Linked DNA regions of Homo sapiens. The protein of the gene in region 1 interacts with the protein of each later gene in a biochemical or structural test. Each region holds a gene or a part of one and is shown on either strand. Other genes may lie near its edges.

Region 1 (3,817 bases):
TGAGCCACCACACCCGGTCTCCTTTTAAATATTTTTAAAGGAGTAGTTAACGTTATGGCTTTATATCCTGATTTTCAACCCTTAGCAGGGAGGCAGTGCTATGGTGCTGTGGATGGCTTAGAGTGACAGTGGCTTTGTACATTTTCTAGGTGGAGTACCTGTGCCTTATGAATCTATCTGTAAAGTCTTGGTGTACCAATTGTTGATTGTGTAAATGTCACTCTTTTGAAACAAAAACACCTAAGTGATGTGCTTTATCTTAAAGTCCTGACATACATTAGAGCTGTGGTTTTCACTGGGAGAGGGGTTTTGGCCCCCAGAGGATACTGGCAACGTATTTTTGGTTGTAGCAACTGACAGGAGGAGAGTGCTACTGCCATATAGTGGGTAGAGGCCTGGGATGCGGTTAAGCACCCTGCCATGCACGGGACACAAAAACAATTATGCAGCCCCAAACCCTGCACTACAGTATTGCCTGGGGGAGTAGGTTAACAAGATTAGGCATCTTAATCTGATTTGGATCCTCAAGAAACTTGTTTAACTGTGTTAAACAAGAGACCCTTATCATAGAAGCCGTTTTGTATGCAGCAGATTCTTTTGTCCTTGCCATTTAGAGTCTTAATATACCATAGAGGTCGAGGAACTTGTGTTCATTGACAACTTTGAGATGGATTAAAGTCATGGGATTTGGGAGCATTAGAGCACAAGGGAGCCTCAGAGATCACTTAATTTCTACCCCTTCTTTTTATAGATGTAAAAAACTGAGACACTCAGAGCTTTAGGACTCATAAGGTCTCAAGCGAGCTAAGGGCGGGCAGACAAAGTTCTAGGTACAACCCAGGAGTTAAAAATTTTAAAATAGAGATTCAGGCAAATGGGAACAAAAAACAAAACACACTGGACCTGACCTTGTGTAAAAGTTTCAAAGCACCATTCCCTGTGAGAAAATAAATAAATGCTTCGATGGGGGAGGGGTGGCATTAGCCATAGAGACTGTGGGGCACGTGCCTGGGTGCCCCAGTCCCAGAAAGGGGTAATTCCATTATATGACCTGTGACACTCCACTTCTGATGCCTGTACTGTCCTTTCCATGGCAAAGTAGGCAACAGATGGTTCCACAGACATAGCAGATGTTGCTTTTGAATCCAGGTACAAAACAGAACATTTGAGATTTTCTGTTCCTCCCTGCCTTATCGGTTAAGAGTAGAGTACATGAATGGATAGGGCTGGCTTGGACAGAAGGGAGAATTACAGAGGCCTCCTGAGTATGGAAGAAAAAAAGACACCTGGCATATATGGAAATGAGCAAGTGTTGGGGAAATTGTGGGAGAAATTCATAAGCTGATGAGGGGATATCTAATATAAATTCAATTGCATAGAACTAGGATTAAGAATCAGAAGACAATTCAAGCTTAGCTATTCTTTCAGCATGTAGAACAAAATAACTATGGGGGTAAAAGGAACCTTAGAAATCCTCTTATCTGAATCTTTTCCCTCCAACCAACTAACTGGGTTAGATAGCGGCAGAATCTGCAAGCCTCCTGTTCTATTGTACTTTCTCCTGCACCCACAGTCTCTACCATTCCATGTGTTTACCTAATGGGAAAGAAAATGATAGTAAAGAAAGTTATTGTTAATTACTTGGGAGAGTTTAAAAAGCATGGTATTTGTGAATGGCTGTTTATAGAAAGGAGTTACCTTAATGAGTTTATGATTATCAGAAAAGTTGTACACCATAGCCTGATTAATTACAAACATGTATACTCTCCTGTTTACATTGCTATGGTTAGCCATTAGGCTCATGATTATAGATTCTAGTTCTGGGTGCCAAGCTGTCCTCCTGTGGTAGTTATTTTATCTAATACTCAAATCTGACAGGTTCTGGCCATATAGGAAAGTTTTTAGTATGCCTTTGGTGGGAGACATAAAACCTCTGAAAAGTGTTAAGATAGTTTCTTATCATTTTGACAACTAGCCAAAGGGTGCACCTCAAAGCCAAGTACATAGTGATATATTTAGAAATGACTCAAGAGTGATAGCCCTTTTAAGGGATCTGCCCCCCCGCAGGTACTATGCAAAAGGGGTGTAGCAGTCTTTTCATTATCATCTTTCATCTGGCCATTCTTGTTACTGTTTTTCAGATGATGGGAGAGGAGACAGGAGTAGTTTTTAAAAAAATAACTGTTGGCTAGAAATATTTATTGGGATTTGATTAAAGTAACTTGTCTTTTAAAAATAAATGAAACCAAAATTGTTAGCTCAGATTTTCAAATCCCTTCAAAGTAAACATTTAGCAAGGCAGAACTTCTCTCTATGTTCATCCAGGAATTTGAACCTTCTGGGAGTTAATTTGCTTACAGTTGTTTTCATGACGCTTAAGGATGTTTCTTAGACATTGCAGAAAAGGAGCTTTGTGCTGTATCTGCTTTAAAGGCAAGATAGTTGTCTATAGCAGCTAGTGGTCAATAAGAGAAACCCAAGTGTAAAAATCATTTTACTGTTGTGTGGGAAACTAGAGGTTGTAGGTAATTGCTATACAAAGAAACAGATTAATAAGATATAGAGTAACAGGGTTAGTCAAAAAGTTTTTGAGAGGATTTTTACAGGAGATACTTGTTTAGTGTGTTAGGTTGATTTTATTAGATGAAGTGCTTTTCCTTACTTTACAAAGTAAAAGGAAAGAAAATATTGTGTATGCCACTGTTTATCGATGGCCTTAAGCCAGGTCAGCTTTTTCTGAGACTTGCTGCTAATTCAGTGGGAATTGGTGTTGATCATCTTAGAATGTTTTGTTTGCACATTGCATGTGACTGCCCTAGATGGCAGTATGTTCATGGAACTAGCCTATGAAATAGCAAAAAAGTTAAAGATTACAAGAGTTTTCCAAGATTTCTTTCTTGACCACCCTACTGCTAAAACAAGGAAAGATAAAGGCAAAAGAAACCCAGCTCCTACATTCTTTTGACCAGTGCAGACCCAGTGTGAATAGTGCCGCACAGCCAAGAGATATTCAGAGGGGATTGAGAAGTGATGTCTGGCTGCCTCACTGCTTACGTCATTGCAGAAGTAGCTTTTCAAAAACAGCTTAAGATTTATTAAGGAAACTGCAAGCCATGGGAATGCAGACAAAACCTTTCTTATACATCATGCTCAATCAAATACCCATATTATATTACATTACCATAACTCTGACCAGGCCTTTTTCCCACTATGTTATGCTAAAACAATTTACCATGCCTTTGGAATGTCATGGGCAACAGTCCGGTGAAATCTTTTCCCAATTAGGTAGCTGCCACCTTATCACTAAAACTATTTCTGTTCTGTGGTCATTTCCATTTCCTGCATTATGTAATGAGCACTCCTGTGTTATTTAACCAGTATCTGTGGGAGTCCAGAAAGTTGGAGCAGAAAGAACATGTAGTTCACTCTCACCATGTTGAGTATGGAGAAACTCCTGTTGAAACAAAATGAAGACAGGCGAATTGACGTGCTCCAGATCTTAGTTCTGTTAGCAGAACCAGAACTAAGATGGATCTTCTGACTTGCTTCCCTGGCAGCCTATCCAGTGTTCTTTCTACTAGATTGGCCACTGTAATAAAAATAACATCCTAACGTAACCATTTCCTTTATTAGATCTTTTGGCCAGAGTTATTAAAAAAAAAGCATTGATTAAAATTAAATTAAACTTAGTCAATTGTTTATCTTGACTTGTTCAAGTTATTTCCCTTCTTTCAAGCAGTAAGTGGTCAAAAGGTAGATAGCATGGAAGGGAAAAATTAAGTGTTTTATAATACTCATTCTGCACAATCAGCTGCTA
Region 2 (3,817 bases), on another chromosome or scaffold:
GTTTGGGGGATGTCAGGGCAACACTGGGATTCCTCCTAGCCCTGGCCCTTCCCTCCCCCATCAGTTAAACCTCCTCCTCTGCTCAGACCTGCCCTGGCCTTCGGGGCCAGTCTGCCAGCATCAAGCCTGGTCCGCAGCACCCTCCCATCCCGCCGTGAGGACCCGGCCGGCCCAGTGTGCGGTGCTCACCCTCCTGCTGCCGGGTGATGCTGCCGAAGGATCCCAGGCGCTCCCGGCCCAGGAAGTCCCCAAACACAGCAGGGAAGGGGTCCCCGCCGACCTGGGTGGACTCCTCCACCCGCACCTCGCGCTTTGTCTCCCCGCCCCGCGTCTTGCTGATCTCCGTGCGCTCCGTGCGGGTGTAGGTGTGGCTGCTGCGTGTGAAGGTGCGTGTCAGGCGCTCCTGGGCAGACACCATCTGGAACCAGTTTCCTGTGTGGTCAAGGGAGCCAGGGTGAGGGAGGGAAGCGAGGGGTGAGGAAGCAGGGTGGAGGCCCGACAGGTGGGCTCTGGCCCGGGCCAGCCCTCTCCCACCACCCGCCCCACCCAGGGTCCTCCAGGCTTCTACCTGGGATCTTGAGGTTGAGGTCACAGGTGCTGCCGATGGTGGCGATGGAAGGTGCCTGTCTCCGCCGGGTGATGCTCTCCTTCATGCGGCCCTCGCCGGTCACCTTCACAGTGAAGGGGCTTCCTGAAGTGGGGACAAAGGGTGGGTCAGGAACCTCAGAGCCCCAGCCTCCTGGCCTCCCTGTCTCTCGCCACCGACCTCTGCCCAGAGCCTTACCAGGCACGTGCTTGTCAGCAAACTTGATGTTGATGATGTAGGTGCCGGGCTCGGTGGGGCAGTAGGTGACTTTGCATGTCCCGTCCTCCATGTCCTCACAGTTGATGTCCACCTTGCTTGGGCCTTCAATACTCAGCCCCAAGCCCCCATAACCTGGGGGAAAGCAAGGAACACATCTCCCTCAGTCCTAGGCTGGCCAAGCCACAATGCTTTCCTCTCCCCAGACTGCAGGCTCCACCCAGAATGGGCACCGATGTGTGTAGTGACCACTAACAAAAATGGCTCAGTGGGAGGAGCGGGGGCACCACGGGACAGGCGGTCTGGAAAATTCCCTAAGGTAAGCCTCTTGGATTCCAGTGAGCAAGGGAGGGACAGAAACTCAGGACAGCTGAGCTTTCTCTTAAAAGGGAGAGAACTGATGCGGGGCCATTCACTTTCCCGCAAGGGGCCCCAGAATGCGAATCCTGACGCAGACTGGTCAGGAAGTTTCAGGGAGGAGAGAGTGCGGCCAAGGGGGTGCTGGGCAGGACGAGGACAAGTGCCTGTGGGAGGCACCCGCTGGAATGGGGGCTCTCTGGGGCAGGAGGTACCTGCATTGCGAGTGTCCACGATGAACTCTGCCACCTGGAATGTGTGTCCCTCGGAAAGCCCCTTGCCCCAGACCCGCACCTTGCTGGCGTCCCCGATCTCAGATGGCCCCACCAGGATCTTGAAGGGGCTGTTGGTGACATGCTTGCCACTCTTGCGCACGCTCACCACGTGCTCCCCGACCTCCTTGGGGGTGAAGGAGATCCCTGTGGAAAGTGGGTGTTAGGCAGAGCATCCTGTGGGCCCCCACCCCTGAGGTCCCCGTGAGGCCCCACGCTCACCAATGTGCCGGTTGGGCAGGCGCTTCAGCAGGCAGGGCTCCTCGTTGCCCGAGGGGGCACGGATGCTGGCGGTCAGCTGGCTCAGATCACTCTCGGTGATCTTCAGTGACACGTCCGTGGAGGTGCCCACATTCAGCTGTGAGGTCCTCATGGAGTCATCACCTGGTGGGGGAGTTGGGGCATCAGGCTGCTATGACTCCAGGCAGGCCCTGCCCTCACAGGGCTCAGGAACCCTCCTGAGCAGCCCCCCCTGGACTCAACAGACACGGGGGGCCACTCCCAGGTGCACGGAGGCCCAAGGCCTGGAAAGTGCAGTCTGCACTCACATGTGAGCTGCCAGAGACTAAGAGGGGCCTGTACCCCAATTCCACTGTGGCTGCCTCAGTCCTTGTGGGCTAAATCCCTAAAGGAAACCTCCTGCATTTTAACCCTGAGTCACATGATGTTGTGATAACAAAACACTAGACTGGACCGCCCAGACCCCTTCCTCGCTGTGTGGCTGTAATCATGTTGCTTGGCCTCTCTGGGACAGGGGTTCCTTATCTATCAAAAGGATTATCCGTGCCCTAACTTCTTAAGAGTGACTTCATGCTGGGCGTGGTGGCTCACACCTGTAATCCCAGCACTTTGGGAGGCCGAGGCAGGTGGATCACAAGGTCAGGAGATCGAGACCATCCTGGCTAACACGGTGAAACCCTGTCTCTACTAAAAATACAAAAAATAGCCAGGCATGGTGGCGGGCGCCTGGAGTCCCAGCTACTTGGGAGGCTGAGGCAGAAGAATGGCATGAACCCGGGAGGCGGAGGTTGCAGTGAGCCGAGATCGTGCCACTGTACTCCAGCCTGGGTGACAGAGCAAGACTCCCTCTCAAAAACAAAAACAAAACAAATGACTTCAAAGACTAAATGAGGCAATGTGTTTTCAGGCACAAGGAGTGGCTGACTGCTTCTTAGCTGCCGTGGAGAACAGAGTGTTTTTACATTTATCAAAATATGACCCCTCACACCTTGAAGGGCCTCTGCCCTAATGTCACGAGTGACTTGAACGGGCTGGGCTTGCACATGAGTGCACTGTATGCGGTGTGTGTGCCTCATGGGCTGTACATGCCCATACACCCGCCTCACCTGTGATCTTGGCTGTGAAGGGGCTCCCCGGGATGTGCTTGTCATCGAAGCGCACGATGATGCTGTAGTCTCCAGGCGCAGTCGGCAGATAGGACACGGTGCAGGTGCCATCCTTGTTGTCCTTACAGGTGATCTCTGCCTTGGATGGGCCCTCCACGGCCAGTGACAGACCCCCTGTAGGTGGAGGTGTGGCCAAGATCAGAGGTCCTGCCCTCACCCCTGCCCCTGGTGAGTCTCCACCCCAGCCTGCGACCTGCAGCTCCCTCACCTTCTCCAGCATCTTTGGTGACAATAGTGAAGGTGGCTGGCTTGTTGACCATGCCATGGCTCAGGCCTGGCCCATAGGCACTGACATGGCGGCTGTTGATGGCATCCACATAGAACTGTAAGGGGCTCCCTGGGGATACAGAGAAAAAGGGGGCTGGGTCAGCATCAGGGATTATCTGAGCCCACCTTGGCCCCAGCACCTTCCAGCAGCCTCCCTGCCAACCCCCTCCGTCTGTGCCGTAGGGACCCAGCTGGTGGAGGTCTGCTTCCCACCAGGGTATAAGCCTCCCTGGGGCCTCGCCTGGTGTCTGCACACAGCGGGTGCTCAATAAATATTTGTTGAAAGAGGGAAGGCAGGACTGAAGCTACGGCCTGCTCCTCTCACCCAAGCCCCAGCCCAGCCCAGCCCCTAACTCACCAGGGATGTGGTTGCCGTCATACTTGATCCCCATCTGGTGCAGGCCTTTCTCAGTGGGTGCATACCTCACCGTGATGGTGCCGTCCTTGTTGTCGGTGATGTTGGGCCGTGCCGTCTTCCCCGAGGGCATCCGCACCTCTCCTGCAGGGCAGACACAGTTACGTGGAGACCCTGGTTTCCCCCACTGCAACCTCCCTGCTGTCCCAGGCCTGGTCCTGAGTGCTTCTGCTGCCACCCGAGAAGCCAGGCATCAAGAGACAGCCTGTGGCAGTGGCCTGAGCCCTGAACTGGGGACAGATGGCTTGCACCTGAGTTCTGGCTCTGCCCAACTTGCTGTGTGACCCTGGGTAGAGCT

What was found.
Region 2: the proteins of PHLDB2 (region 1) and FLNC form a complex in vitro, tested with the Homo sapiens proteins (one study listed by BioGRID).

The regions. Positions count from the first base shown.
Region 1 is NC_000003.12:111,862,123-111,865,939, forward strand, and holds part of PHLDB2 (pleckstrin homology-like domain family B member 2), read left to right. Parts: intron 1-3,817. UniProt on the Homo sapiens protein: Seems to be involved in the assembly of the postsynaptic apparatus. May play a role in acetyl-choline receptor (AChR) aggregation in the postsynaptic membrane.
Region 2 is NC_000007.14:128,850,589-128,854,405, reverse strand, and holds part of FLNC (filamin-C), read right to left. Parts: intron 3,604-3,817; coding exon 3,463-3,603; intron 3,175-3,462; coding exon 3,046-3,174; intron 3,006-3,045; exon of another isoform or gene 2,952-3,005; coding exon 2,778-2,951; intron 1,816-2,777; coding exon 1,654-1,815; intron 1,579-1,653; coding exon 1,375-1,578; intron 1,122-1,374; exon of another isoform or gene 1,009-1,121; intron 938-1,008; coding exon 785-937; intron 692-784; coding exon 569-691; intron 433-568; coding exon 190-432; intron 1-189.